6 separate regions of the Homo sapiens genome follow, and regions 2, 3, 4, 5 and 6 are each reported to be linked to region 1. Evidence: microRNA targets listed by miRTarBase, many of them from high-throughput screens and not tested one by one. Region 1 holds a microRNA gene; each other region holds the end of a gene's coding sequence. Distances are between the middles of the regions.

The links. Region 1 holds the annotated microRNA hsa-miR-3140-3p (AGCUUUUGGGAAUUCAGGUAGU, at 3,048-3,069, opposite strand). A microRNA usually pairs through its seed, bases 2 to 8, with sites in the 3' UTR of a target mRNA and lowers its output. Matches are read on the target gene's strand: a 7mer-m8 pairs with bases 2 to 8, a 7mer-A1 pairs with bases 2 to 7 and ends in A, and an 8mer does both.
Region 2: miRTarBase lists ACTR2 as a target of hsa-miR-3140-3p. Seed matches in the 3' UTR shown: 7mer-A1 at 1,237-1,243 and 7mer-A1 at 2,702-2,708.
Region 3: miRTarBase lists ARRB1 as a target of hsa-miR-3140-3p. Seed matches in the 3' UTR shown: 7mer-A1 at 3,644-3,650, 7mer-A1 at 3,490-3,496 and 7mer-A1 at 1,121-1,127.
Region 4: miRTarBase lists COL27A1 as a target of hsa-miR-3140-3p. Seed matches in the 3' UTR shown: 7mer-A1 at 3,431-3,437 and 7mer-m8 at 3,201-3,207.
Region 5: miRTarBase lists PI4K2B as a target of hsa-miR-3140-3p. Seed matches in the 3' UTR shown: 7mer-m8 at 987-993.
Region 6: the mRNA of PCDH19 is a reported target of hsa-miR-3140-3p. Seed matches in the 3' UTR shown: 7mer-A1 at 1,339-1,345.

What each region holds. Positions count from the first base shown.
Region 1 is chr4:152,486,289-152,491,400 of GRCh38, forward strand. It overlaps MIR3140 (microRNA 3140), which reads right to left and starts at 3,128; the gene lies at 3,039-3,128. All of the region lies in intron 2 of FBXW7 (F-box and WD repeat domain containing 7), which reads right to left.
Region 2 is chr2:65,268,223-65,273,334 of GRCh38, forward strand. ACTR2 (actin related protein 2) reads left to right here. Exons shown (of 9, transcript NM_005722.4): 9 at 342-3,031. The coding sequence ends at 512. Among named protein-coding and RNA genes, the nearest start is that of ACTR2, 43 kb to the left of the region's middle.
Region 3 is chr11:75,261,893-75,267,004 of GRCh38, forward strand. It overlaps ARRB1 (arrestin beta 1), which reads right to left. Exons shown (of 16, transcript NM_004041.5): 16 at 1-4,382. The coding sequence ends at 4,271. Among named protein-coding and RNA genes, the nearest start is that of TPBGL, 24 kb to the left of the region's middle. RefSeq lists enhancers at 1-466, 825-1,756, 3,791-4,292, 4,293-4,792 and a silencer at 4,113-4,202.
Region 4 is chr9:114,309,887-114,314,998 of GRCh38, reverse strand. It overlaps COL27A1 (collagen type XXVII alpha 1 chain), which reads right to left. Exons shown (of 61, transcript NM_032888.4): 61 at 2,488-4,450. The coding sequence ends at 4,304. All of the region lies in intron 1 of LOC105376224 (a long non-coding RNA gene), which reads left to right. Among named protein-coding and RNA genes, the nearest start is that of ORM1, 11 kb to the left of the region's middle.
Region 5 is chr4:25,276,672-25,281,671 of GRCh38, forward strand. It overlaps PI4K2B (phosphatidylinositol 4-kinase type 2 beta), which reads left to right. Exons shown (of 10, transcript NM_018323.4): 10 at 343-2,533. The coding sequence ends at 516. Among named protein-coding and RNA genes, the nearest start is that of ZCCHC4, 34 kb to the right of the region's middle.
Region 6 is chrX:100,292,146-100,297,257 of GRCh38, reverse strand. It overlaps PCDH19 (protocadherin 19), which reads left to right. Exons shown (of 6, transcript NM_001184880.2): 6 at 383-5,112. The coding sequence ends at 981. Among named protein-coding and RNA genes, the nearest start is that of PCDH19, 120 kb to the left of the region's middle. RefSeq lists enhancers at 154-703, 704-1,255.

The DNA.
Region 1 (5,112 bases):
TCTATTTTTAAACATTTTCTTTCTTCAATAATAAACCTTAGCTCATATAAACTTTTTAGTTTTTAAACTTTTCTGACTTTTGTAATAACATTTAGCGTAAAACTAACATATTGTACAGCTGCACAAAAATATTTTCTTTCCTTTTATCTTTATTTTACAAGCCTTTTCTATTTTAAAAAATTCCTGTTTTACTTTTAAAACTGTTTTGCTAAAACCTAAGACACAAACAAACACATTAGACTAGCCCTACACAGGGTCAGGATCATCAGTATCACTGTCTTCCACCTCCACATACTGTCTCACTGGAAGGTCTTCAGGGACAATAACATGCACAGAGCTGTCATCTCCTATAATAACAATGTCTCTGGAGTACGTCCTGAAGGAACTGCCTGAGGCTGTTTTGCAGTTAACTTTTTTTTTTAATAAGTAGAAGTACATTCAAAATAACAACAAAAAGTATAGCATAGTAAATACATAAACCGTTAACATAGCTGTTTATTATTATTATCAAGTATTATGTACTGTACACAATTATATGTGCTATACTTTTAGACTGGCAGCACAGTAGATTTGACTTACACTAACATCACTACAAACATGTAATATGTTGGTTGTGACGTTAGTCCTAACATGTTATAACAGCTACAACGTCACTATGCGATAGAAATTTTTCAGCTCCATTATAATCTCATGGGATCAATGTCGTATATGCAGTGCATGACTACATAACAATAATGGATTTTAGTTCACCGAATTAATGAAGAAACCATGAGCCCTTAGTGAAAGGACAGAAACTCCTTTACAGAAAGAAGAATGCCAGCTAATAAATGTGGAAAGAATAATAGATGTAGAAAATCATTTTGCAAGCATCAATGTAACCAATAATTCAGGCATAAATCAATAATGGATGTTAAAAACACTGGGTGAAAGGCTGTTGAGAAACAATGTTTACTCAGTCTCAAGGCATTACCCCACAGATTAATGATTAATTATCAAGGGGAAAAGGATACTTTTACAATAGAGAAATCAGGTCACACCACCTTAACCAAGTAATCAAACTAAACATCATAAATAATGGACCAAACTAATAATTCAGAGGATAAAATAAACAAACTTTAAGTACATACAAATATCAACATGAATAAATCTTGATGTAAATAAACACTGAGTGAAAAAAGCAAGTTAAAAAGTTATGCCAACAGTATATTATTATTCACATTTTAAAAGGAAATCAGTACTGTTTATCTTTTTATACAAATATGTGGTAAAAAGTATTGAAAACTTACAGGATACCTTTAGAAAAGTAATTACCTCTGAGAAGAGAGGCAAAAGAATGAGATTAGTAATCTTCAATTATATTTTTAATTTATTTTAAAAAGTTCTGAAACAGTGATAGCAAAAAGTTAACATTTGTTAAATTTTGGCAGTACAGATACATAAGCATCTTATATTCTTCCTTGTATTTTTTATATTTTGAAGTATCATTTAAAATTGTTAAATTTAAAATGGACTGCTGCTACATAATTTTCAGTTTTAATAGCTATACAATACTTAGTTCTGTAATTCTTGCTGTTTAAAACAACCGTTTTGAAGAACTTTGATTTAGAAGGTCACCAGTGGTTCCTATTTTAATCTTTAATGTAAATTAACAGAAGCAAATTGGCACTTCCAAAATGATTCTAATAAGCAAAATGCATTCCATTTAAACAAATAAAAAATAATGTTAAAAGTATGCCATCCAAGTGGCATTACATCTCCAGTTTAATACTTCCTGTATCTCATATTGCTTTTAAAACTGAACATTCTTTGGAGAATTGAAAGTTTGACTATTTTAATAATTTGCTTTTGTCAATCACTTTGACTAACTCTACAAAATCATCCTATTAAAGTTATTATTTTAAATATCAATTAATAGGTCTATAAAAAACCTACTGTTATAAGACTGGTGCATAAAAAAATATAAATTTTTCAAGTGATTTAGCAGTAATTTAGTTCTTCATCATGTTCCTTAAAAGGCTTTAATCTATAATCTATTTGTAAAAACTTTCTATTTTCTCCTTAAGAGAAGGTCAACGGCTTTCACTTCACTTGTCTAACATAATCATGAATTGAAATAAGAACTCTCAGCTCTTTGGAACGACAATGCTACCAGTATGCCTAGGCCAATAAAGCGATTCGTTCATTAATGCTGCTAATAAAGCAACCTTTTGTTAGTCTATGAAACATCAGAAACCTTACAGACTCTAACTTTGCAATTTTTCCCTGTTTTGCCACATGAACTTAAAAGTTCTCTTACATGCCATTTACTTTAATAACTAAAACACTATCATTCAAAAATTCAATCTTCCACTCTAGGTAAGTTAATAACTTAAAAAATATTCGCTCCAACTGCAGAAATTTCTAGATGAAATTATGTTTTAATTAATTATTCTCTTGTGTTTTCCCATAAAAACCAATCTGTATAGAAGTCTGTGCTATCTTCTATTAAACAACTAAAGGAACTACCCATATAATATTCTCAAAAAGAAAAGCATAAATGTTCATTTATTCAATTAGCACCAATCAACTACAGTAAGCAAGGCAAAGAAAATACAGCAAAGATTAATACACAATTCCTGCCCTCAAGCAACTCAATTTAGGGAGTAAGCCAGGTATCTGTAAAAATTACTGTAAGGTAGTTTATAATATTAACTACTAAATATAATAGTATAAAGAATATAATTAACAGAGCTTAGACAGGATTTTTTAAAACCTTCCATGAGACTTTTGAGGCTAAATAGAGAATAGTCTATTTTAGGTAAATAAACAGCACGTATAGAAACACAGATGCATCAAACACCAAGGTAAATTCAGAAATTCTTAATTCTGTAAGGCTCAAGGGTATCATGTATGTAAGGAATTATTAGGAAATGTCTGTCAGTTCACAAAGGGCCATGTTTGTGTTGCCCTCGAATTTGAACTTTATTCTAGGCAATTGGCAGTAATTAAAAGGCTATAAGAAGTAGTGTATGGTGCTCAGTTCTGTTTTTTAGAAAAGTCACTCCTGAACTACCTGAATTCCCAAAAGCTCTTATTTTCAATAACTTCAGAATACATAAAGCTTTTGGTAATTCAGGTACCTCAAGAGGACATAAATGGTAGGCTTCCAAGCCTACCAAGACATTCATACTCAGTATAACTATATACCTACTCTATACTGCTAACTTAAGTTTAGCATTTTCTAAACTAACTGTCACTTAAAGAGAAAAATCAATACATGAAATATTGGTTCTAATATTAGTCAACTATTTTTAAACCTCTTCAAAGTATTGGGAAAATATCAGTTTCCAGGAATTATAAAGTCATGTTATTGATACATTTTAAGAGTTGCAGTTAAAGTCAACAGGATGTGTTTAGAATTTATAAAATTAATCTTAAAATTTAGCCCACTGTAATCCTTACTGTGAACATCCCTGGAACTGAAACCTGGCACCCTTATCTTCTTCTGAGCACTGTCTTTTATGCTTACTACCCTCCCCTCAATACCACCCCCATGCCTACCTTGAAAACTCCATGTTCTTACATGACCCTGGGCTACAGTGAATTAGTCCAACTTGACCCAGCCATACCAATGTTTTCAGTTGTTACCTATTATGACTAAATCCATAAGCATTCTTTAAAAAAAGCCTTGCAAACATGTTTTCATTTCTATTAGGGAAGTACTTTCTTCAACCACAAAAAATGGAACTAGAAGTCGCTACAACATGAATTAACTTTGAAAATATTATGCCAAATGAAATGAGAGGACAATAAGACAAACACTGTATGATTCTATTTATGAGGTACCTAGAATAGTCATAATCATAAAGACAGAGTATAACATACGTTACCAGGAAATCAGGGGAGGAAAGATGGGAGTTATTGTTTAATGGGTATCAAGTTTTTATTTGCGATGATGAAAAACTTCTGGAAATGGACAGAGATGGATGGTTGCAAAATATTGTGAATGTACTTGATGCCACTGAATTGTATATTTAAAAATGGTTGAAATGTAAATTTTATACTATGTATATTTTGCCACCAATAAAGAAAAAAACCTTAGAGGAAAAATTTGTTACTTATTGGACTCCCTAGAACCCAAGAAAGTAAAAAAGATCTAACATTTAATAAGTACCAGGCATTACATATACTACCTCAAATAGCCCTCCCAACAACACTATAAGGTACACTTAGTATCTCTGTTTTAATGAGGAAGAAACAGGCAAAAAGCAGATAACTCAAAAGTCACAGAGCTAGGAAATATTGGGCATAGGACTCAAACCCTGGCAGTCTGACTCTGTCTCTCAAGCAGCAGCATAAGTTAAAAAAACATTCATTACAGAAATCTATGTTGTTAAAATTGCCTAAATACTCCATGGAAATATGAACTGGCAAAAATCAAAACATAATCCTGCACCTACAATACCAATAGTGTGTATCTGCATTAAGGACAACATGTTTAATGGTATAATTATAAGCAAAGCAGATTTTTTCTATCTTTATTACTTATGAGCTCACACCTTCATTTGGCAGTAAGATATATCAAAATTTAAAACATACAGCAAGCAGTACAAAAAATAACAAAACAACAAGCTCTTAAAGATCGCTGTCCCTGATAAATACCAAAACTAATAGTCAAAGGAAGAAGCACATTAGAGAAGAGAGAAAAAAGAGGTGATTTAGAATATTCTTTGTAAAGAGGAAAGGGGTCTTTCACTCACACGGCTTAATACATTAATAAGGAAGAAGCATAATAAAGCTCAAGGGCATTTGAGAACCAACTGACAGGACTTTCCGGATATAGTTCCAGATCTAATAACACAGTTTTATTGCCCCTTGTTTTTATCAGATGCCAATAAAATCAGAAAGAAACCATTATCATTTCTCAGTCATTCTCTCACATTCATACATTTTATAACATACTGACCTTACAACATAAGCAGTAATAGAATAGCTCTTCAATTTGGGTATCCTTCAATTTTTTTAAAAAACTACACCAACATAATCATTCAATAAATGTATTATTATTCTAGACATTAAAACAGCAAGAATAGATATATCTTTCCCTCCAAAAACTTAGGCTTAGTCTAGTGT
Region 2 (5,112 bases), not on the chromosome of region 1:
TATGTCTTGGATGTTTGGTCTCTCAGTAGGGTGTTAAGTCATGTAATTTACTGATCAAATTAGGACACTCAAGAATGGAAAGGGTGGTATTAATAATGATGGGACACCACGTGTAAATCAGGACTGTTCCAAGCATGCTGGGATGGATGTGTGGTCTCCTAAACATGAGCTTTGGGCAAATTACTAAATGTTTCTGTACCTCAGGTACCAAATATTACGTTCTACTTATATTACAGGACTGTTGCAAGTTTGAGGGAGAGCATATATTTAAAAAGCCATTTTCATAAAGCAGAAAGCACTGTGCACATGTACCATTTCATTATCCTTTCTTTCTCCTTTAGAAATTTAAGATCCGCATTGAAGACCCACCCCGCAGAAAGCACATGGTATTCCTGGGTGGTGCAGTTCTAGCGGATATCATGAAAGACAAAGACAACTTTTGGATGACCCGACAAGAGTACCAAGAAAAGGGTGTCCGTGTGCTAGAGAAACTTGGTGTGACTGTTCGATAAACTCCAAAGCTTGTTCCCGTCATACCCGTAATGCTTTCTTTTTTCCTTTATTGCCAATCTTTGAACTCATTCAACTCCAGGACATGGAAGAGGCCTCTCTCTGCCCTTTGACTGGAAAGGTCAAGTTTTATTCTGGTGTCTTGGGGAAGCTTTGTTAAATTTTTGTTAATGTGGGTAAATCTGAGTTTAATTCAACTGCTTCCCTACATAGACTAGAGGGCTAAGGATTCTGTCTGCTGCTTTGTTTCTTCTAAGTAGGCATTTAGATCATTCCTATAGGCTTCCTATTTTCACTTTACTGCTCTAATGCTGCTAGTCGTAGTCTTTAGCACACTAGGTGGTATGCCTTTATTAGCATAAAACAAAAAAAACTTTAACAGGAGCTTTTACATATTACTGGGATGGGGGGTGGTTCGGGATGGGTGGGCAGCTGCTGAACCCTTTAGGGCATTTCCTCTGTAATGTGGCGCTTTCAACTGTACTGCTGCAGCTTTAAGTACCTTAAAGCTTCTCCTGTGAACTTCTTAGGGAAATGTTAGGTTCAGAACTAAAGTGTTTTGGGTGGGTTTTGTTGCGGGGGGGAGGGTAACAATGGGTGGTCTTCTGATTTTTATTTTTGAGGTTTTGTCAACTGGAGTACGTAGAGGAACTTTATTTACAGTACTTTGATTTGGCAGGTTTTCTTCTACTTGTGCTCTGCCTGGAGCTGTTTCCATATGATATAAAAAGCAAGTGTAGTATTCCATTACTATGTGGCTTAGGGATTTATTTGTTTTTTAAAATCAACCATGTTAGCTGGGATTAGACTCCCTACAGTCCTTCAATGGAAAAGTAACATTTAAAAATCCTTTGGGTAATTCGAATTACAGATTTAAAAGAGCTTAAGATCTGGTGTTTTGTTAATGCTTCTGTTTATTCCAGAAGCATTAAGGTAACCCATTGCCAAGTATCATTCTTGCAAATTATTCTTTTATATAACTGACCAGTGCTTAATAAAACAAGCAGGTACTTACAAATAATTACTGGCAGTAGGTTATAATTGGTGGTTTAAAAATAACATTGGAATACAGGACTTGTTGCCAATTGGGTAATTTTCATTAGTTGTTTTGTTTGTTTTGATTTGAAACCTGGAAATACAGTAAAATTTGACTGTTTAAAATGTTGGCCAAAAAAATCAAGATTTAATTTTTTTATTTGTACTGAAAAACTAATCATAACTGTTAATTCTCAGCCATCTTTGAAGCTTGAAAGAAGAGTCTTTGGTATTTTGTAAACGTTAGCAGACTTTCCTGCCAGTGTCAGAAAATCCTATTTATGAATCCTGTCGGTATTCCTTGGTATCTGAAAAAAATACCAAATAGTACCATACATGAGTTATTTCTAAGTTTGAAAAATAAAAAGAAATTGCATCACACTAATTACAAAATACAAGTTCTGGAAAAAATATTTTTCTTCATTTTAAAACTTTTTTTTAACTAATAATAGCTTTGAAAGAAGAGGCTTAATTTGGGGGTGGTAACTAAAATCAAAAGAAATGATTGACTTGAGGGTCTCTGTTTGGTAAGAATACATCATTAGCTTAAATAAGCAGCAGAAGGTTAGTTTTAATTATGTAGCTTCTGTTAATATTAAGTGTTTTTTGTCTGTTTTACCTCAATTTGAACAGATAAGTTTGCCTGCATGCTGGACATGCCTCAGAACCCTGAATAGCCCGTACTAGATCTTGGGAACATGGATCTTAGAGTCACTTTGGAATAAGTTCTTATATAAATACCCCCAGCCTTTTGAGAACGGGGCTTGTTAAAGGACGCGTATGTAGGGCCCGTACCTACTGGCAGTTGGGTTCAGGGAAATGGGATTGACTTGGCCTTCAGGCTCCTTTGGTCATAATTTTAAAATATGGGAGTAGAAAACAACAAAGAATGGAATGGACTCTTAAAACAATGAAAGAGCATTTATCGTTTGTCCCTTGAATGTAGAATTTGTTTTTGATTTCATAATTCTGCTGGTAAATGTGACAGTTAAAATGGTGCATTATGTATATATATTATAATTTAGAAATACCATTTTATAATTTTACTATTCCAGGGTGACATAATGCATTTAAATTTGGGATTTGGGTGGAGTATTATGTTTAACTGGAGTTGTCAAGTATGAGTCCCTCAGGAAAAAAAAAAAATTCTGTTTTAAAAAGCAATCTGATTCTTAGCTCTTGAAACTATTGCTACTTAAATTTCCAATAATTAAAAATTTAAAATTTTTAAATTAGAATTGCCAATACTTCTACATTTGAGAAGGGTTTTTTTAGAAATACATTTAGTAAAGTCCCCAAGACATTAGTCTTACATTTAAACTTTTTTCTTTAAAACATGGTTTTGGTGGTTAACTTTTACACAGTTCTGAGTACTGTTAATATCTGGAAAGTATCTTGAGATATCAGTGGAAAGCTAAACAGTCTAAATTAACATGAAATACTTCATTTTGATTGAGAAAATAAAATCAGATTTTTTCAAAGTCAATTTGAATTTTGTCATTTCTTTCTAATAGTTATTTCTTGTTTCATTTTCTTGTTAATGCAAGATGAATTGACAGTTTATGCTAGTTGTTAGGTCAAGTTCATGTCAGTGTTCTATTATTGACAAAACAACTCATTATTTCTGGTATGATTTTATAAATACATAAGAAAATAGAATAGCGATTTATAGCTACATCAGAGGCTGTTTTCTTCCAACAAACTGTTTTGTCTCCCAAAAGATTTAAGGTGGCTTTCACAGAATTAGAAATGCTAAAGAGACCTGTATGTAACATGCCCCCTTTCAAGGACATATTAGCTCATCTGCAGACTTTTAGGCATATTATTTTTAACAAATAAAAGAAGGATGAAAATACATTTAACTGACCTTTTCTTGTTTTATACTAGCCTTGAGGATGAGGGCTGGAGAGTAGAGAGAGTATTTTTGCCTTTCCTTCTTCGTGGACTTGTATGTGCAAACCTCATTGCCCGCTTCAGGGCCGGAGTCCCAGACAGCGAACGTAAGGGTTGTCTCTGGTGTTTTATCTAGTTTCTTCTGAGTTGCGGAAGAAGAATATGATAACAGCTATCTCCATATGTAATGGAGGAAGAAAATACCAGGCACTGCATAGTGCCTTTGATGGAATGAATGTCTCTCAGTGCACTTCATTTTTTTCCTCCACCCACAAACTTTGACCATTATACAATTGAGTGAGTTTATTAACTGTATTAATTTTAGAACCATCAAAGAGGGTAGCCAACTAAAGTGAACCAGAAACTCGAGGATTAATCTAAACTCGATTTTTTCTTTCTTTTGAGACGGAGTTTCACTCTTGTTGCCCAGCTGGAGTGCAATGGAGCGATCTTGGCTCACCGCAGCCTCCACCTCCCGGGTTCAAGCGATTCTCCTGCCTCAGCCTCCCAAGTAACTGGGATTACAGGCATGCGCCACCACGCCCGGCTAATTTTGTATTTTTAGTAGAGAGGGTTTCTCCATGTTGGTCAGGCTGGTCTCGAACTCCCGACCTCAGATGATCCACCCGCCTCAGCCTCCCAAAGTGCTAGGATTACAGGCGTGAGCCACCGCGGCCGGCTAAGCTCAATATTTAACATGCTCTCTAACCTTGGACTAATTGGCCAACTACACACAATACTGGGATACTTTTTTCCTCTGGCTCAAAAATCTCTGACCTCTTTGAAGATTGAAAAATGCTACATCAGAGGTAAGTGGAGGAGGTAAGGGGACGTACCTGGGAAAGCATGTTTGCATGTGTGAATAACTAAAAGGCTAAAATTAGTGACTTTAACCATTATATTGAAAGTAACTTTTAGTCATAGAATAGAAATAAACTTGATTTAGAGGAGGTGAAAATAGGCAGCTATTACAAAAATTTCAAGTGATGTTCACATTAATATAACATTTTAAAAACATTCTAAAGCATCTTTCTTTGTATTGTTTAACATCTGAAATTAGGAAGAAAGAAGCTATTGAACCATAGTTACTTTTGTTTAAATTATCTAGACTGGCAGTGACAAAAAGTCTTGTTGCCTATTATAAGTGTCTCAGTTTGCGTTATCTGCAGATGTAAAATATCTGAGTAGGGGGAATTCAAATGATTTATCTCTTCCTTTTGGCAGAATGGAGTTCCTGTCTCTTTCATATCTACCCCCTCAACTCCTCCCACCCACCAGAGGAAAAAAGGAAAGACTGGAAAAGACTTGGCATATAATTTTCCATGAAACATTTGACGTAGGAATAGAAGAATTAGAGAATGTTGAGTAGATTTTCATGGACCAGTTGAAAGGTTTGGGTTTGGCAAGTGCAGAAAGCAATCACAAAGGTATTACAGAGTGATTCTTATGCCCAGGGTAGCCTTTAAGAACTGTACCCTTTGCCATTCACAGCAAGTGGAGCTTTTGCCTGATGAATGCTTTAAAAAATCGGTAAAAAGAAAACTCCAGTGAGTAAAATATTTGTTCTTCCTTAAATATGGGTTTGAAAAAGGGCCTCAACTCTCAAGGATAAGGATTTTTAAAATTATACTTTTTGTGCATAAAAGTGTAATTACGACCGGGCACGGTGGCTCA
Region 3 (5,112 bases), not on the chromosome of region 1:
AGACCCTATAAGAGTGTAAGACTGGGACCTAACCCCTTCCTCCTGGATGGGTGGAGAGCAACCAGTCCCCAGTGACAGGCAGGAGAGAAGCTGCCGCTCTGGGATGCTGACGCCACTGCATCCGCTGTGGCTCGGCTCTCAGGACAAAAGGCTTGGGTTTTTCCTGGGCCCGAAGCCCTCCCAATGTCACTGAGAAGCTGTGGTGGCTCCAGTTGCTCCTGGAAGAGGCCTTACACTTTGAAGGGAAGGAACAGACAATTTCTATTTCTCCTTGCCCTTAGATTTCTGCGGATGGGTGGTTTCAGCTCCCTGAGCCTGGGGGCTGGTGGCTCTCTTTAACCTGGGTCAGAGCCAAGGCCCCTTGGCCTCTGTGGGGTCTGAGAGATGGGAGATGTGACACCAGGCCTAGGAGGGTCCAAGATGTCCCCCTCCACCAATCACTGACAATATCCAGGTCTTCCCTCTGTGTCCTGGTTGCTGGGACCACTATTTTTGGGCATGATATTCCTGAATTGTATCTAAATTTCCCTCTCAGCTGGGTCATCAAAGCCAAATTGGCTGTATCTCATTCTGGTTGACATCTGCCTAAGTGAGAAGCAGGGCAAGCGATGAAGACTGGTGGGGAGGGCTCCTCCTGCAGCAAACTTTCTGTGTGACCTTGGGCCATCCCTGCAGTGGCAGGGCCACACACATCCAGCCATTTTCAACTTACAGAGCCCTGACCGCTGACTTTCATCTCATCTGGGCCTCATAACAATTCCTGCGTCAGGCAGGGAAGGGATTACAATCCCATTTTACAGTTAGGGAAATTGAGCCCCAGAGGTTGAGTAGCTTGCCCAAGCCCCCCAGGTGGTTGGTGACAGGCAGGACTGAGAGGCGGCATTGGGGACTTCCAGGACAGAGTTCCTTTCACTGCACCATGTAGGAACCAGCTTGTCAGGAACTCTCCCACAGAACCAACAGCCAGGTGAACCCACTCTAGCAGGTCTGAGCTTTGAGGCTGAGGAGAGGTGCAGCCAAATAACTCAGTCCTTATCTTCATGGGGACTGAACTCTTCCCCTGGGTGGAATGCTGAGGAGGTCCCGCTGGCTCTCTGCTCGGTGGGTTTTCACCGGGGCATGCTTTTCCTTCCTGCCCGGACCGGTGTCCACACGCCACCCACAGGGCACACTGCAAAGTCCCAGTGACGGATGGCTTGGCCAGTGCAGGCCCCAAACACTTGGCAGAGAAACCGCCAGTACTGTGGGATGGTGCCTGGGGCCTAGTGAGGCTCCCCCACCCCTAGTTTCACTTCAAGGTATCACCTGGGCAGGCTGACTCCAGAAAGGAAAGGGGCCCTGCAGAGAAGCACTGGCTCGGCCATGTTTGGGGGCTGGGAGGTGGTGCCTGGAGTTGACCAGAAGCTTGGAAACATGACCTGCGGCTTCCTCTCCAGGAAGAGGCTGAAGGAAACACTTTGGCCTGTGTGTCCCTCGAGGCTGCAGCGTATGGCCGTGCAGCAGGGCACCTCTGGCCAAGGGGCAAGGGGTGCTAAAATCCAACCTGTGTGTCACTCCCAAAGCTGTGCGTTCTAGTGTAGGTCTGAATCCACCTGGAAAGGGCACCGTCTTCTAATTCACATCAAGGCACCATAGGGACCAGCAGCCACCAGGAGCCCTGAAGGCAACTGCCCTCTATTACTTATCCCTACAACGTTTCCCTGACCATGGGCTTCCTGAGGACAGGGGCTGGGACTGACCCATCTCTGTGGCTCCAGTACTTGGCATAGAGCTGAGTCATCAGCAAAGGATGGTAGGCTGAATTCAACTAAATTTGGCCATTGCCTTGTGCAGTCCTGGCTCCAGGAGAAAAAAAAAAAAAAAAGATAGTGCTCTGATCCTTCCCTGCAGCTGGAGAAATTTGCTAAATAACACTGGGCTAAACCCAAAAGGGTGAGCGTGATGTTGAGGTGCAGGAGGCTCGGGAAACCAGCCTGACAAACGTTTTCCATGCATGAGTTAGGGATAGGGGAAGAAGTCTGCAGGAAAGAGGTCATCCCAAACACTAAAGGATCTTGTGTCAGCCCCAAAGGTTTCAGAAGACACTGGAGGGCATATGTTTGCCATGCATTGCTCCAGCATTTCATCAGCTCTGCGCCTGCCCAGATGAGGTGCAGCCTGCCCAGCAAGCTCTAGGAGGGGCTGGATGCCTGGGGGACCTGCAACTAGGCCCTCAAGACTGGACAGGGTAGTACGACAGCCCCCAGCTGACTTGGTTCTGGTCTGGGGAGGGGTCCCTTGGGTTGAGTGGTCATGAGACTCAGAAGTCGCGCTGCCAGGCTTGTGAAACAGGTGATTTCACCACAGGAAATAAGTCACACTGCCTGCCCCAGGAGGTGCTGGACTGGAAAGGATTGAGATGCCACTTGTATAAGATTTTTTGTCTCCCTTTTCAGACAAGTATGGGAGAGAGATGGAAGGGAGCAGAAACTGAGGAGAGAGCCCTTGTCCTGCTAATCAATATATTTGCCTGGGTAAACCTCAGGGTGTCTGTGCCCACAGGGGGCTGTGAGGTACTGCAAGCCCTATCATAAGCCCCTCAGCCAAGCCTCAGCAAAGATATGCTCTGTCCCTCCTTGGGCAACTCATGCTACCTATGGCCACAGCCTGACATCAATCCCTTCCCAGTCTTGGGCACAGGGTGGGGTTGAGGGCAGTTGGTGCTCCATAGGGCCCTGCCACCTCTGAGGTCCAATAAATCCCCTCTGGAGGCAGAGAGACCAGTCAGCAGCTCTGGCTCTACCCACCAGACCAGGAGCTCTAATGTTCACAAATTCTTGGTGGCCAGAGCTAGGAAGGCCCATTGTGATCATCTGGTCAAACTCCTTGCTTTCCCAAGTGAGAAACTGAGGCCCAGAGTGGGGAAGGAACTTGCCCAAAGTCACACAGTAAGTTATTCTCAAAGGCCAGGCAAAGAGGATAACTCCTAACACTTTCTATCTCATCTCCCATCTGGCTTCTTGCCCCAGGAACTGCCCCAGGTCTCAATCAACCCAACACCAGCTAATGCGTACTGGGTACCCATGACACTGGGAGCTATTGGAGGTCATCAACTCACCAAGAAAAGAAGGGGCTTATTTGCTACCCAGCAGCCTCCTTCCCTTCGGGTGAGGATATCTCAGTGGATGCTGCCACCTTCTGAGATAGGACCCCCTTTGACTGTGGCATGGTGGCCTCAGGCACTCTCTCCCAGTCCATAGGGTCAGTCCAGCCCTGGAGAATGGCAGGGGGAAGCAGGAGGATACTAGTGGCCTCGGCCCCCGCTGGACACCCATCCTCACTTCCTGCATGACCATGTGAAGTCCACAAGGAAGGGACATAAGGCAGACTCTCCTCTCCCCGCCCCCTGCCCCCATCTCTGAGCGCCCCCCTTCGGGAACCCTCCTCAGGAGCTTCAGCTCACTCTGCTGGGGGCTGGTGCTTGCTGAAGACCCCCTCCCTCCCTCCCTCTGCTTTTCTCTCTGTGCATATCTCTAGACAGGGCCATGCACTTGAAATACAAGGTAGCTAAGATGTCACAGCCTGACAGTACTGAAATATACTTGGGTGAGTCCACACAGCTTGCCTCAGTCTAGGTAACTGCTGGTAAGAAAGTCAGTCCAGTTGCTTTTCTCTACTCCTGGGGTCTACGAACTTTCACCAACATCACTATCAGACACAGAGGGACATCAGGTGGGGAGGAGGGTGAAGGCAGAAGGTCTTTGGTGGGTCAGAACTTCAAAAAGGCATTGAGAATCTGTCCACAGTTCTGCCCCTCCCAGCCAGAAGGAGGTGGCCTTCAACGCGGTCATCTTTTAGCTGCCAGAACTTTGTTAACCACCTGGGACCGTGGACATCTTCTCTCGTGTCTTGAGCCCTCATCCCCACCCCTCCAAGCCCTCATGCCCACCACACCGTGTCCCACATTCCCCATCCTCCCCTGTCTGCTCCCCATCTCAAGTCCAATTCCAAGGCCAGAGCCCTGGCAGCTTTTCTGGGAGACAGCATGAAAAGGAGGGGAGTGGAGATGGCAGAGATGGGGTGGAGCCAGTGCGCTGTGGTCCTGTTGGCGTGGTGATGTGGGGCCAATCCTGAGGCCAGAGGTTCATCACCGTGATCTGGAAGCCCACGGGGCCCCCTGGTAGAAACTGGAAGAACAAAGGGGAAAAGAAACCAGAACAGGAAGAAGACGAGTAAGCATCCGAGTGCACGAGAGTGGAGCCGGAGCCACGTGGAGGCAGGGCCGGCCCGTCTATCTGTTGTTGAGCTGTGGAGAGCCGGTACCATCCTCCTCTTCCTCCTTGTCATCCTTCATGCCTTTCAGTCTCTGGCGAGCAAAGTCCTCAAATACAATGTCGTCATCACTGGTGGGAGAGACAAGGAAAATGTGGTGTGTTTGCAGGGGCAGGGAGAGTAGGCTTATCCAGAGGCCCGGCCAGATGTGACTCAGAGTATGGCTCTGGGGCCGGGGAGAACCACCCTCTCTGAGGTCTCTGGCCTCTGGGGCTGACCATGAGCAGAAAGGCCTGTCTGGCTGGCACATGTGGATGCCACCTGTGGCAGTGGGGACAGTCACATCAGGACTCGGGCCAGTCATGAAAGGGGCAGAGAGGGGCATGAATTTGACTCTTGTGCCTGAGGGCTAGAAAAGTAACCTGGTTCTTTAGGAGGTGGGGGGAGCAGTGTGGCTCTGTAGCCAGAGGAAGGACTTATTCCCACTGTGAGAGGCCAGGCCACCAGTAGTTTCACAGCATGTTCTGAATCCCCCAAGAATAGGCCCGGCAAACCCCACCCCACCACCCAGAAAACTACCCTTAGGAAGCATTCCCGTTTCTGGACAGCAAGGAGTAGTTTGGCTTAATGAAAGAGAAGACCATGAAGAACCTTTCTCCCAGAAGTGTCAGCTCAGATTCTACCTTGGGGGATCCCAGACAGAAGAAGGCTGGGGTAGGAGGATGTGAATCTAAATAGGGGGGCAGAGGACCTGTTCGTGAGGAAAGGGGAGGCTTGAGTGGGGTTTCAGGACTAGACTGCCTTTAAGAACAGCGAGTTCCCTTCTACCATGAAACATGTCCATTTAGGACCATGCAGGTG
Region 4 (5,112 bases), not on the chromosome of region 1:
TTCCTCGCAGCGCAGGCAGCTGCCTCCTGGATGGCTCTGCTCCAGGGCCCCATGGCAGTCAAACCCAACTTGCCAACTCAGACCTCTGCTCATCTGTGCAAACCTGTGACTTGTCATGTTCCCAGCTCCATACCGCAGGCTTCCTCACCCTTTCCTGCAGCCCCACATGGGAACACTTACCGTTCCCAAATGCAAAGTGCTACCTTTACCTCTGGGCCTTGGCAGGCACTGTTCCCTCTACCCCAAGTGCCCTTCCCCATCTGGCTCACTTCTATTCCTTCTCTTTCAACCTCAGCTTGAGGAGTGTGATGGTTAATTTTATGTATCACCTTGACTGGGCCACAGGGTGCCCAGATATTTGGCCAAACACTATTCTGGGTGTGTCTGTGAAGGTGTTTTTGGATGGGATTAACATTTGGGTAATCCCATGGGAGACTGAGTAAAGCAGATGGCCCTCCCCAATGTGGCTGGGCTTCATCCAATCAGTTGAAGGCCTGAATAGAACAAACAGGCTGAGTACGAGCGAATTCCTTCTGCCTGACTGCCTTCAAGCTGGGACAGGTTTTTTCCCTGCCTTTGGACTTGAACTGAACCGTTGGGTTTTCCTGGGTCTCAAAGCTGCCAGCAGCCAATCTTAAGATTTGTCAGCTTCCATCATTGCATGAGCCAATTTCATATAATAAATCCCTTAATATGGAGTGCAGTGGCGCCATCTCAGCTCACTGCAAGCTCCGCCTCCCAGGTTCACACCATTCTCCTGCCTCAGCCTCCTGGGTAGCTGGGACTACAGGCACCCGCCACCACACCCAGCTAATTTTTTTTCTATTTTTAGTAGAGGCGGGGTTTCACTGTGTTAGCCAGGATGGTCTCGATCTCCTGACCTCGTGATCCGCCCACCTCGGCCTCCCAAAGTGCTGGGATTACAGGCGTGAGCCACCGCGCCCGGCTGCAAGTTTTTAAAATATAAAATCCTGGGTATAAACTCAACTGTTAGTGATGTGCTCTTTCTCCTCAATGAGAATGGCAGAAAAGTTCTGATTATTCATTGTCCCAGGGAAGGAGGAATAAGCTGAGGAAGAAAGAGATCTGAAACAAGGGTCAGGAAATGTGGGCTCCAGGCCAGGATACTCAGATACGTATAAATTTCAGATAAATAACAAATAAAAAGATTTCTAGCATAAGCATTTCCTCAAAATTGCATGGAGCATACTTGTACTAAAAAATAGCTATTGTTTATCTGAAATTCAAATTGATCTGGGCATCCTATAGTTTTATTTTTTAAGTCTGGCAACGCCATCTCCCAGACTCACACCCACTCACTTCTTCCGTGGCAGGTACTATTGTGACTTCTCTCAAGAATGTGACAGGCAGGGATCACTCCTTTTGAAGCATTATTCACAATAGCCAAAGGTAGAAACAGCCCAAATGTCCACCAGTTTGGCTCAAATATCCATCAGCTTATGAGTAGGTAAACAAAATGTGGTTTATCCATGCAATGGAGTACATTCAACCATAAAAAGAATGAAGTACTGATACACGTTACGACACAGATGAATCTTGAAAACATCACGCTGAGTGAAAGAGGCCGGGGTCACAAAAGGCCACATACTGTATGATTCCACTTGTATTAGGTCGGTGCCAAAGTAATTGCGGTTTTTGCCATTTAGAAGTAATGACAAAAACCGCAATTACTTTGGCACCAATGTAATATAAAATGTCTGGAGTAGGCAGAGCCGTGGACACAGAAAGCAGGCTGGTGATTTTCCAGGGGTTGGGGGAGGGTGGGACTGCTAAAATGGGTACAGGTTTCCTTTAGGGGTGATGAAAATAATACGAAATTAGATCATGGTAACGTTGCACACCATTCTGAATGTACTATCACCAGTGGCAAATTTTATGTTATGTGTAATTAACCACAATAATAATAAAAACAAATTGCTCATGTTAACCTCAGTGTACCTCCTCCCTGTGTGTTAGGAGTTGAATCGTGTCCCCCCAAAAGATATGTCCTAACCCCCTGCACCAGTGAATGTGACCTCATTTGGAGATAAGGCCTTTGCAGATGAAAGTAAGTTAAGGTGGGGTCATGAGTGTGGGCTCTAATCCAATATGACTGGGGTCCTCATAAAGAGAAGATGGAGCAGAGAGACACATCAGAACACGTGTCACCACAGGGACACAGACCGAAGTGCTGCAGCTGCAAGCCAAGGAATGACTGGGGCTACCAGGAGCGGGAAGAGGCAAGGAAAGATCCTCCCCTTGAGGCTTTGGAGGGAGTGTGGCCCTGCCAACACTGCCTGTGTGAACTTCTGGCCTCCAGAACTGCGAGAGAGACGGTTCTGTGTTGTTTGCAGCCACCAAGTTTGTGGTATTTGTTACAGCGTAAGGAGGACATCCTCTGAGCATCTCCTCCCACTCCCTATCCCAGCCCAGCCAGAAACTGCCCCCCTGAGCTTTGAGAAGCAGCACGGGACCACAGGCGTGTCATTCCATTGCCTCAGTTTTAAATATTTATTTAAAATCCAGAGGGGAAAAGGAGAAACGGAACCCATTGGGGTTTTAATACACTGACATGTGGACAGAGACGTAAACGAAGACAGCAGGAAAACCCAAGAATGAGACAGAGGCCAGTGGATTCTGGCAGCAGGAGGGATCCGAGCGCTGAGATGAGGCCCGAGCTGCTACAAACACGCACTTCCACGCAGAGCGTCCAGGCTGGGGCGGCAGGGCGAGGATACAGAAGTGTTGGGAGGGGGGACGGGCCAAAGTGAGGTATTAAATAATAAAAATCAAATCCAATTCCCAAAGAGACACAACTTTAGGAGAGAAATACACAAATAGAGACTTTCACATACATTTTCCCCTTCTATAAAAATAATTCCATGGTTAAAATAACCTCAAAATCCAATTCAAGCGCCGACTTGTTCGCTGATGTAGCACAATTCAGAGGACGCTGAACGTCACTATGGTGTCGAACTCCGAGATTCCCATTATTATTCTGTCTCCTTGACCCAAATTTACACTTGGAGCTAATGACAATGGGTTTCTACAGAATTTAATGACAATGAAAAAGCAGGAACGATGATTGCATCTTGCAAGGACAGGCTCCTGGAAGTGAGGACCTCGGAAGAGGCGATGCGGCTTCCTGAGATGGTTCCATGTTGATGCTTCACCTCTAAGCCTAGCCCTGACCCAACGCCGCTTTTGTGATTGGTTTCTTCAAGGTCAAGTTTTCACCCAAGACCTCTCCAGGGCACGCCTTCCAAGGCCAGCCTCACCTCCCTCCAGGACCGTGAAGGGCCAAGCCAACATGCTTCGCACCCAGGCCTCCCTGCTGCCTTAAAAGGACAGACATTTCAAAGTCCATAAGTTATATGGTAAATCTCTCTACTTCTGGTTTCTGGTAGGGTTTTTGTTTTTGTTTTTGTTTTGCTTTTTTTTTTTTTTTTTCCTTTTTTCTTTTCTTTTTTCCTCCTTAGCAGATTACCTGATGAGCACAAGGGCGATGCTAGGAAAATTCAAAAATTCCCCAAACTTTGTCATTTGGAGGAGAGAGAAAGATGCGGATGATGCCCCACATCCAAAAGTTTCTTCAAAGTCTGTGGCAAAATAATGGTAGCACCTTCAGAATCTTAAATAGGGATTTTTTTTTTTCCTTAAAAAAATCACATACACTGTGAGAGACAATTGTGAGCACCAGCGATTTCACAGTGGGAGGTAGCAAACGTGGGCACCCCCAGCCCGAGGATCTCGCCGCTTCCCACGCCTGGCTGCTCCTTCCCATCCTCTCACCTCTTTCCCGGGTGAAAAAAAAATAGTAACGCACCTTCTTTTTGTTTGTTTAAATAATATATATATACACTTCTGTCTTTCCTTTTCTCCTTTTTTCATGTCTCCTTTCTAATATTGCACATCAATAGCTCCCTAGCAGGGACCAGCTGACGAGACGCCCCCTTCCCTCAAGTTGGCTTGAATGTGGGGCTCTTTGGGCAGGAAGCTGGGGAGGGAACGGGGTGGCCGCAGAGCTGAGAGGCCACGGGGCTCAGGCAGGTTGCAGGTCCAGCTTACTCTGGCTGGCTCTTTGGTTGGTCTTTGGGGCTAAGCTGGGATCCATTGTTCCCAAGGACACCCTATCCCCTCCTACCCCCACCCACTTCTACTGGGCAGACAACAGCTGGGGTCTGCCCAAGGACCCTTGGGCAGGGGAGCTGCCTCTCCTGGAGCCATCTGCCCCTCAGTACCCTCCCCTTGCCTCTTCCTCTTCCCTCCTCCGTGAGGCCTAGAGTGGCCACGAGGTCAGAGGTCAGAGGAAGCACGCAGGTCCAACTTCCAGGCGGTACTGCTTCCCTGATGAGGCAGGAGGGAGGTTGTCCACACTGATGATGGGCAGCTGTTGGGGGTCTTGGGTCCGGAAGGTGAAGAGTGTCTGATGCCAGCGGCCATCTTGGACCTGAAGGCAGAAGGAAAAGTGCACACGTACATCCATCGTGATTCTTATCATACATCATGAGCATTTTCCCTTCCATCTTTCCTCACAATTTTTAATGGCTATACTGTATTTCATTGTAGCAATGACCTATATGGCACATTTAGATTGCTTCCACTCTTTTTATTCTTGTAAGGAATGCTGTCATGAACATCACTGTAACTAAACCTTTGTGTGCATTCTTATTTCCCTAGAACAAATTCTAGAAGGATTGTTCTAGATTGCTAGACCAAAAAACAAGTACATCTCATATACATATATATATATTTTTTAATTTATTTTTTCAATAAGTTTTTGGGGAACAGGTGGGGTTTGGGTACATGAATAAGTTCTTTAGTGTACACGGTACCCAATGTGTAGTCTTTTACCTCTCACCCCTCTCCCACCCTTTTCCCTAAGTCCTCAAATTCCGTTGTACCATTCTTATGCCTTTGTGTCTTCATAGCTTAGCTCCCCTGAAAATAAGTACATTTCTAAGGTTTTGGATATATATTAGAGCTGCTATCCAGAAAGCCTCTACCAATTTATTTTCTTCCAACAGCTTCATGCGAGATTGTTGGTTTCCCCACATCCTCATGAACACTGTGTAGTATTATTAGTTTTGTTTAGTCTTATAAAACTGATTT
Region 5 (5,000 bases), 130 Mb from region 1:
TATGTTAAATTGAATATGTATGTAGACCTCTTCACTTACCGTTCTTTGATTCCATTGCTCCTGGACATAGGCAGGATATTCTAGAATATTTTAAACTTACCATCTGGCAAAAGTTATTTAATGCTAATTGTGTGTGTGTGTGTGTGCGCGTGTGTGTGTGCGCGTGTGTGTGTAAACATACATTCATATAATACATATTTATAACAGGTACTTATCTTCACAGTCTCTGTTGCTCATAAATGGATGAAATAAAAATTATAATGAATAAATGGTTTAAAAAATGTCAGTGAAGTGAAGCTTTTTATCTTTTTAAATTGGTAAAAATCTCTCTTCTTCCCACAGATCTTAAACCTTACTCAGGCATTGAGAGACGGGAAGAGTCCTTTCCAGCTAGTACAGATACCTTGTGTGATTGTGGAACGCAGTCAAGGTGGAAGTCAGGGTCGGATTGTCCACCTGAGCAATTCCTTTACCCAGACTGTCAATTGCAGGAAGCCATTTTTTTCCTCCTGGTAGTAAATGTCAGAGTAAGAGAAACAAACTGTTTAGAATTATCATGTTTTTAAAACATCATAGTAATATAAATCTGCTGTTAGGAGCTCCAGTTGCTAAAACCTCAATTTAAGTCTTTAAAAGGTTGTATTTTGAATGTAACCAAAAGTTTACAGTTTTTTGTCCAAATATTAAATTTCTATTTCAGGGAAGAAGTGCTATATCTCCTATATTGTATTTTTGTAGAAAATTTGTATTTTATGTTGTTGTTAGTTTAAAAGGTAATTTTACACATGCTGGAATGACTGTAATTACTCTAGAATTCCAAGTAGAATACAATAACTTTTAATATTGAGAAGAATGTTCATGCTAATTCTTCTTACATTACAAAAGGCCTTTGAGGATGCCTACGTCTGAAATTGCTCTTACGAACTTTAATAAAATAGTTAGCTAATAGAAAAACAGGTAAGAATAAAGCAATGTTGCCTTAATTTCAAAAGCTGCTATTTTAGAATTTGAATAAGTACTCCTAAAGTGACCATTATTAGGGACCAGAAAATTATATCTTGGCTAAGTAATAGAGGACCATTTTGGTTTTTGTACTTGAGAATATTTTTGGTGAATTACTTTGTTGTAGTGAGGAAAAAACCTAAGAAATTTCCCCTTTTTTTAAAAAATGGAAATATTCAATTGAGACTTGAGGGGAATAATAGAAAATTAAGGTAGATCCCCAATATTTTGGAATACCAAAATTGCCTTAAAAATTCCCTTCTGTTTCTTACATGGGATCAAATACTTGAGATTAGTACTTCAGAGTACTGGCCTTGTTCAATTTAGTACTTCAATTAGTATTAAACTTCACTAAAAAGTAAACCATACTCCAAATTGTATATTGGATTGCATTTTGGGGTCCTAGGTCATACGTTCTTCAAAATTATTATGATTGTACTATTGTACTTGAAATTACAGATGTTATTATAATTACAGTCAAATGTAGACTATCAGGCCAAATTAAAGGGGAGCATGGCAGATAACCATAAAGTCATTTATATTTGATTTTGAAATGTATTTTTGTACTTTATTTTGAATATCATCCATATGTCTGACATTATTGGAATTTGTAACATTGTTAATGCACTAAGTGATTTAAATTCAATTGATGAAGATGTGATTTTACAGAAGCAGAAGTTTCATTTTCTTGAGGCTTAAAACCAATGTCACCACTTGGGCTTAACTGGGTAATTTGTGGTCTAGGCCTTTTGTTTTCTAAGCTTACTATCTTGTGTTTGTTTATTTGCTTTTAATGAAGTATTTTGTGTAGAAGGTTAAATTAGGATGCAAAACAGATCTGCCATTCCTTTTTCCCTTATATCTTCCTTTTGGTCTTCATGGACGAGATGAATGAGGATTCTGCTGCCCTGAGGGAGTTCATTGGAAACCTGCGTTCTCCTACCTCTTCCAACCCTCCATTAGCTCAATTTTGAGATAATGGAAAATTGACTGGAAATTCAAAACTCAAACTACTATCTTTAGATATAAACACTAGTAATTAAAATGTGCCTTTTGAAGATGTTTTCTAAGAGAAAGGAAATACGTTGCAGTGATGTGGGTACTGCTTTCATAAAACAGTTTTTTCAGTATTTTGAGAATTGCCATATTAATTTTTATAATGGAAAACTTAATAAATTGCTACTGTTTTATATCATAAAATTAAAATACCATGGTAATATTTGCAAAAGGTCTGGCCATACCAGAAAAGTACAGTTGAGATAGTTAAGATATAACCACAAGTCAGAGTACATTGGTTGTATTTTGTAAACTTTCATGAACTGAATTCTTATTTAAATAGTATGGTTTTTTTTCAATAAGTATATTTATAGTGACAAATGTGGTAGACTAAAGGTAATAAAAATCATTGTCTTAAGATTATGTTCTTCTGTATGTACGTGTTTGGAATATTTAGAATGTTTATGAACACATTTACTATAAATGATGCCAAACTATCATTTTCTTCATATATTAAAGGTATAGTTTAATTCTTTTTTTTTTTTTTTTTTTTTGAGACGGAGTCTCACTGTGTTGCCCAAGCTGGAGTGCAGTGGCATGATCTCAGCTCACCACAACCTTCATCTCCCAGGTTCAAGCGATTCTCCTGCCTCAGCCTCCCGAGTAGCTGGGACTACAGGCGTGTGCCACCATGCCCGGCTAATTTTTGTATTTTTAGTAGAGATGGAGTTTCACTATGTTAGCCAGGCTGGTCTTGAACTCCTGACCTCAAATGATTTGCCTGCCTCGGTCTCCCAAAGTGGTGGGATTACAGGCGTGAGCCACCACGCCTAGCCTAATTCTTTATAATTCCAAAAGATATTTAACTGAAACCTTTATAATTAAAGACATCTTAATTGTACTTAATTAAATATGCCACCACCTTATCACCCCAAAATTTGTCAGCAATTGAAGACTGTTTGTGGAGACATGGTTTTTGCATACTTGAAGATAATTTGATTCACAAAACTTTTCAAAAATTTGAAATACTTTGGGCAGCCGAGGTGGGCAGATCACCTGAGGTCAGGAGTTCGAGACCAGCCTGGCCAACATGGCAAAACCCCATCTCTACTAAAAATACAAAAATTGCCCAGGCGTGGTGACACACACCTGTAATCCCAGCTACTCAAGAGGCTGAGGCACAAGAATTATTGAACCCAGGAGGGAGGGTGGAGGTTGCAGTGAGCCGAGATCACACCACTGCCTTCCAGCCTGGGTGACAGAGTAGATTCTGTCTCAAACAAACAAACAAACAAACAAACAAAAAAATTGAAGTACTGTACTATATGGAATTAAAACCTTTTTTAAAAATGACGGTGCCACGTTCTTTGATCAAATTACATCTTAAATCCTTGTACAGCTGTTTGAATAGACAGGCAGCATCCTAGGTTTTATAGTCTGCCTTCTTTCACCAACTTGCTTGGGCAACTGTACAGAGTTGTAGCAGAGATTCTTAGTGCTGTGCTATGTTTCCAAGTCTCTCATGCAATTAGTTTGGGGCCTTGTGACTGAGTTCTGGCCAGTGAGATGTGGAGACAAGTGATATATGCAACTTCCAGGCCTGGCAGTAAAACTGTCACGATTGACCACTCTCTTGTCTTTCCATTCAGCTATGAACGAAGAATTTGCAAAATGGAAGCAGCCAGGGCACAGGAGGCACTGCTGGGGAAAGCCACCAGGAGAGCCTCCTGACTGCACTTGATGGTGACATGAGCAAGAAAGAAGTTCCATGTTGAGTCACTGCAGTTTTGAATGTAATTGTTACTCTAGCTTCGTCTCTCCTATCCCAGACATTATGATGTAAAAAGAAAAATACCAATCACTTTTAAATAGGAGGCATACCGTAACATTTCTTCACTAAAGCTAGGTGAAAGGTTATCTTTTTGAATTCCAGAATATGAATAGTTTGGGTTAAAACCATCAATACATGGCCAGGCATGGTGGCTCATGCCTGTAATTCCAGCACTTTTGGAGGCCAAGGCGGGAGGATCCCTTGAGCTCGGATAGTTTGAGACTAGCCTGGGCAACATAGTGAGACCTCATCTCTTAAAATAAATAAAATCAATACCAACAAGATCACGTGGCAATAGCAGCTTCGGAGGATCAAGCAGAGAGAAGGGAAGGGGGATTTGTGATGGTCCTAAGAGCCAAAGAACCCAGAATTTGCCACCATGTACCAAGCCCCCACAAGAAGGATCCCCAATAGCGGTGGGAGTTTCAATTGGTAGAACCAAAAACCACAATCAAAATTAGGAGAAGGCTGCCCAGCATTCACCTGGTAGCTAGCAAAAAGGCCTGCAGAAAGGTGTGAGGGTACTAAGGCAATCTGGTCTTCGTAGTTTTCAAAAATAACCAGTGAGAGGACATAGGGCTATACCAAGAAAAAGTACTGGGAATAGAACATGCACAGACGAGGGAAGGACCCCAGGGGTAAAGGAGAGTGGTTCAGATAATGAGAGAAGAGGGGACCAAATGAATGAGACCGAATTCAGAAAGTACTGAAGAGGTAGGAACACACAAAACCATCTTATCTAATACTCTAATAACGACAGAAGAGAGAGCCCTAGAGCCACGAAGCTCAGAAACTGTCCTAGCCCACCCTCACCTCCTACACAGGAATCTTCTAAAAATACAGGAGGAAACATATAGAAAAATCCATCTGATTTAAACATCTTACAAGATGTAAGACTACATCTTACAATATGCTTGAAGAAAAAAAGGTTTACAATCTGCATAACATACCCACAGAAATGAAGATATCCCAGAAACATCTCTCTAAAGCAAAGGAAAACAGTAATCTAATGTTTTAAAACATGCTGAAGGAATTTAAGAAGCCATGGAAGCTAAGAAAGAACAAAAAAATTGAAAAAACTCTGATCGGGCATGGTAGTTCATGCCTGTAATCTCAGCACTTTGGGAGGCCGAGGTGGGAGGATCCCTTGAGGCCAGGAGTTGGAGAGCAG
Region 6 (5,112 bases), not on the chromosome of region 1:
GCCTCCACTCCCTCATCTGCTGAATCCAGTTTCAAACACAGGTGATTTTTAGCAGGAGTTGTTGATTAAAATGCTGACTCTCAGCACCTTGACACTCCAGATGAACTTTAGAATATATATGTATTTTCATCATAACGTGTTTCCCTTTAGGTTTTTTGTTTTGTCAGTAGTGGGAACCTTAAAAAGGATATACATAGAGGGAGATCTTCAGCCTTTTAAAAAAATCCAGTTCTTCACACTTGTCCCAAAAGGCAATAAAGGACTACCTAAAAGTGCCATTTCCCACAAGGGCCTGTGGATATCTAAGAAACCAGAACACTGGGGAGTAACAGTGAATCCTGGGAAAAGCTGATGAAATTGATATTTTCTTTTTTCCAAACAGATCAGAATGAAGGATTTCATTGCCGGGAAGAATGCCGGATTCTTGGCCACTCTGACAGGTGCTGGATGCCCCGGAACCCCATGCCCATCCGTTCCAAGTCCCCTGAGCATGTGAGGAACATCATCGCGCTGTCTATTGAAGCTACTGCTGCTGATGTCGAGGCTTATGACGACTGCGGCCCCACCAAACGGACTTTCGCAACCTTTGGGAAAGATGTCAGCGACCACCCGGCTGAGGAGAGGCCTACCCTGAAAGGCAAGAGGACTGTCGATGTGACCATCTGCAGCCCCAAGGTCAACAGCGTTATCCGGGAGGCAGGCAATGGCTGTGAGGCGATTAGCCCTGTCACCTCCCCCCTCCACCTCAAGAGCTCTCTGCCCACCAAGCCTTCCGTGTCTTACACCATTGCCCTGGCTCCCCCAGCCCGTGATCTGGAGCAGTATGTCAACAATGTCAACAATGGCCCTACTCGTCCCTCTGAAGCTGAGCCCCGTGGAGCTGATAGCGAGAAAGTCATGCATGAGGTCAGCCCCATTCTGAAGGAAGGTCGCAACAAAGAGTCCCCTGGTGTGAAGCGTCTGAAGGATATCGTTCTCTAAACCAGTCTCCAGGAAGAAGAGAAAGAAACCACACTGGCTAGTGAAGAAGCAGGAGCTTCTTGTTTTAATTGCTCACCAATGGTTGGTTCTTGAGTGGCTATATTTCAGAGCTTTTCCTAAATGTATTGTTTATAGGTGATTATCATTCTGTGACAGTCCCTTGTTTCAACAGGCAGCAGGGGTGTTCAGTTGGAGCAAATTAGCTTTGGCTTGAGTTGTTCATGGGGCCTTGATGTTGGGGAAACAGAGACAAATTCAGTTGTGAAAAGTATTATGTATTAAGTGTTTGAATTTATATATTTTTCTATGTCAAAATTATAATATAAATTACCATTGTTTGTGGAGGATTACATTTAAAAAAGCAAAAAGTGAAAAAAAAAAGCTCTGGACACCTTTAATAAGCTCGCCACTGTTTTTTGTAGTGTAGACAAGTTAATGGTCATTTATTGTGTACTATTCATTGATTCAGTGATGTGAAATTGAGCCCCCAAAAGGTTGTTTCTGAAGCTCGAGTACTTCCCAATGCCGCTACTTTGCTGTGGACACCCCTGCTTTAAAAACCCTTTTGCTAGCTGTGCTATTGTTGTATTTGATATTGCAAATTGCTATGTGTGTGGTGATGGCAAAAGGCTTTTAAAAGTTGGTGTTTTCTTTTTCTTAAAAAAATAATAAAACTACAGACAAAAACAAAGTGCAAACAACTGAGACAGCAAATGAATGAGCAACACCATGCATATAGATTGAGTACTTGGAGAATACTCACGTTTTTTAACTCATGTAGTGATTGCTCACCACTTTGCAAAGTATTTTTCCTGCCTTTCAGTGGTCTGCCCAGGTCCATGATAGATCATTGCAGAAAGTCATTTTTGGATAGGCTGCTATCTAATTTGCAGTTGTCAGAAATACTGTGCTGAAAGTTTTATGACATCCATCTTTTAAATTTTCAGGCCCTGAACAGGAAAGTTGCTCCTGAAGTTATGTTTCCAGGCTTAGAAATTCCCTCTCTCCAATCATCTAAAATTGAAGATGACTGAATCTATTTTAAGATCTAAATTAGCATCTCTTCAGACACACACTTCCTGATTCAGTGTTTCCCAATCATGATTAGAATTAGACTGCAAAGCACGTCATGGGCTGGGATTGAGAACTCCATGTTGCTCTGTATCTTAGGCTTATATACGTAGGGATAGAGTAAGCAGTACAAAGTGTATATTTTGGAAAAGACAGGTAACAGGTAACAGCATCGCTAATCCAATTACTGTGCCTTCTAAACGGAGACACTCAGACACTTGAACTCATCTTTTTATGACTAATAGTTTTTTGATTAAAAATGTGAACAAGAAAATACTAAAATAAAAATCCTTTCGATTTAGCCAACTCTTTTTGCTGTAGGCTAGGAATACACCCTTTTTAAATTAACACACTGTAGATCCTTTTTTTCTGTTTTAACATTCCTCTAACTCCCCCATTTATCTTTTGTCTATTAATATTCACTAGCCAACATAGTATTTTTGCAGCCTAAGAGTTCATTATTTAAAAATAAACTAAAGAAATATGTCACCTTTGTTCTGCCTTGGTCTTAAGAGAGTTGTTTCTAGAGAAACAAGTTTTATGGTTCTGTTTTCATTTGTTTCATTTTTTGAAATTCAGGAATACACAGAGAGAAGGCCTAGAGGTTAGAGCACTAGAATGCAAAAGAGGATTTATTTTCTTAAGTTTAGGTAGATAAGTCAGCTCTTTTGAATGTTTTACTTATTTTTGCCTGAGTTCCTAGCTTTACGCATTACTAGGAATATTTTCTTTTACAGGAGGGAGAAGGGTTTTGAGGGAGGGGGTGGGTAAGGCAGTAGGGATGGGGTTAGGTAGGGGAGAACATTTCTGAAAAAGAACTTATAATGAAGCTACAAATCCATCCTTATTTCTTATTCAGTGCTGAATACTACCTCATGCAAAATATTGGTGTGGCTGCAAATTTCCCTCTGAAGCTGACACAATTAAGGATGAATTACCATAACATCTTCATTTTTCCTCATTTCATTGCCTCTCATACAGTTTTCTCCCTCTGATTTATTTCATTTTGGTAGTGGATTTTGAATTAAGTATTTATTTCTCTTTGCAAGTGACTATTTGATTAACACATTAAAAATTTTTTAAAAATTTCCCCTTTAAGTTATGATGGCTGCCTATAGAATTTAGACTGTTTCTCACCCTGATCCATCCTGATATTATGTTATTAGCTACGATTTCAAGGTCACTTTGAAGTCAGACTTCACAGTTTTCTACAGGTGTATTTCTTGCTATGCTCAGTGGGAACCAGGGAGCAGAAAAGATTGTGGAAAGTGGGAACATTAATTGTCACGTGGCTGTTGAGCCAGAGAGGCCACTGGCTGCCATGCCTCTTACCAGCCAAGTTTTAAATGGTTAGAGTGGCATTGGCATTGATTTTGCTTTTCTCTTGGGTTTTCTTCATTTCTTTTCATAATTCATCTTCAAGCTATAGATCCATCCTTCTTCCCTATCCAAATACTTTGTTCTCAGTGGGCAGTCAGATTTTTTTGGCTTCCAAACCTCACTGAGCATGTTCAGAGAATTCCTCTCATTAAGGAAATATTTTTCCCCACAATTGTCTGATGTATGAGTCCTCTCAGAAGCACAAGTGCATACTAGGAAGGCTTTGTAAACTGGTTTTGTAGGCAGGCTGTACCTGCAAATAGGCATTCTGAGCAAGGATCCTAAATTTCCCTTTGGCTCATGTCCCCCCCGCCCCACCCCACCTTCTCCTTTTTGGCATGTCTGGTGAAAAGCTACAAGGTTCACAGGGCCAAATATTCTCCCTTTTGTTCTCTAAACATGTTGCACACATAAACTCAAGGGAGTGATTTCGGTTCCTAAGTCCTAGGGAGTTCTATTCCATTTATTCTGATGTCCCTTTTAAGGAGGAGTTGGTGTTGAAGTGTGACATGCTTTAATGATAACTGCTTTGGCAATTCCCCAGACAGGTATACTTCTTCATCCAAAATTGCACCTAAGGTGTTCATTTAGACAAAATTGTTCGCTTAGTGATCCACTGATCTCTAATCAGAAATATTTTTAAAAAATACAATTTAGATCTCTGAAAATTGGAACCACTCAAGAGTATCATCTTGATAGTGTTACTTCAGCATATGACTGACTGATTTTATGAAGGGAGTTTAGCTGACTTTTCCCTGTAGCCCTATCATATTAAAAACAAAAAGTGGTCCACTTGAAGCAGCAAGGACAAAGGGCAGTTTAGGGAGAGGCAGGGTGAAGGGGATAGCTCGATTGGGCATCCAGAGTGGAAAAGGATTATTATTGTACATAATAGCAGTTCTGGCTGGAATTCCAATCCACTTTCTGGGGATCATTTTGATGTTGAATGTTCCCCCAAAGCATTCTGACAAGTTTGGTCCACTTGGCTCTTTACCCCGGGTAATAAGACCCTTATTGACTTTGAAAAACTGGCATAAATGAGCTTAAGAAATCCATTGTATACAGTCCTAGTGTTTGCCTTCTTGGTAAAATTACATTTAAGGATGTCATTTCATGAGTCAAATTGTATCTGCTGACACTGAAGTGTATTGAGATGTTGTTCTTTAGTTTAAGTATGTAACAAAGTAATATTCAAAGGGGATGTTTGGGGGTGGGGCTGGGACCGGGTGGCTTTATATTGATAATGAAATATTCCAGAGCAAAACACATTGTCCTAATGAAGTTGTTGCAGCTCTCTTCGTTTTCTTGTGCCGCTGGAATTGGCTTGTGGGTCACTTGTTGTGCAAAAGTGAATTAATTTCAAATAGGAATCATATTGCTTTTGTGAAACAAAGAAAATTTACCACCTTGTCTGATACATAGATTGGAAGGCGCTCTTGGTAAAGAATAACCCACAAACACCTGATCTTGATTGGAAAGCATTGTAGGTCATTAGGGAAAACTGATGATGCTGACTGTTGCTCCAGCTGTGTTGGCAATTCAAGATGACCTTGTTACTAACTGAAAGTTGCTGTCAACCTTAGCAAACAAACCAGCTAACACCATTACAGCACTGGTTAAGTAGATTTTTACTGGCACTGGCTGGCGTTCAGCTGAGGAAGGCTAGGATACAGACTTTAA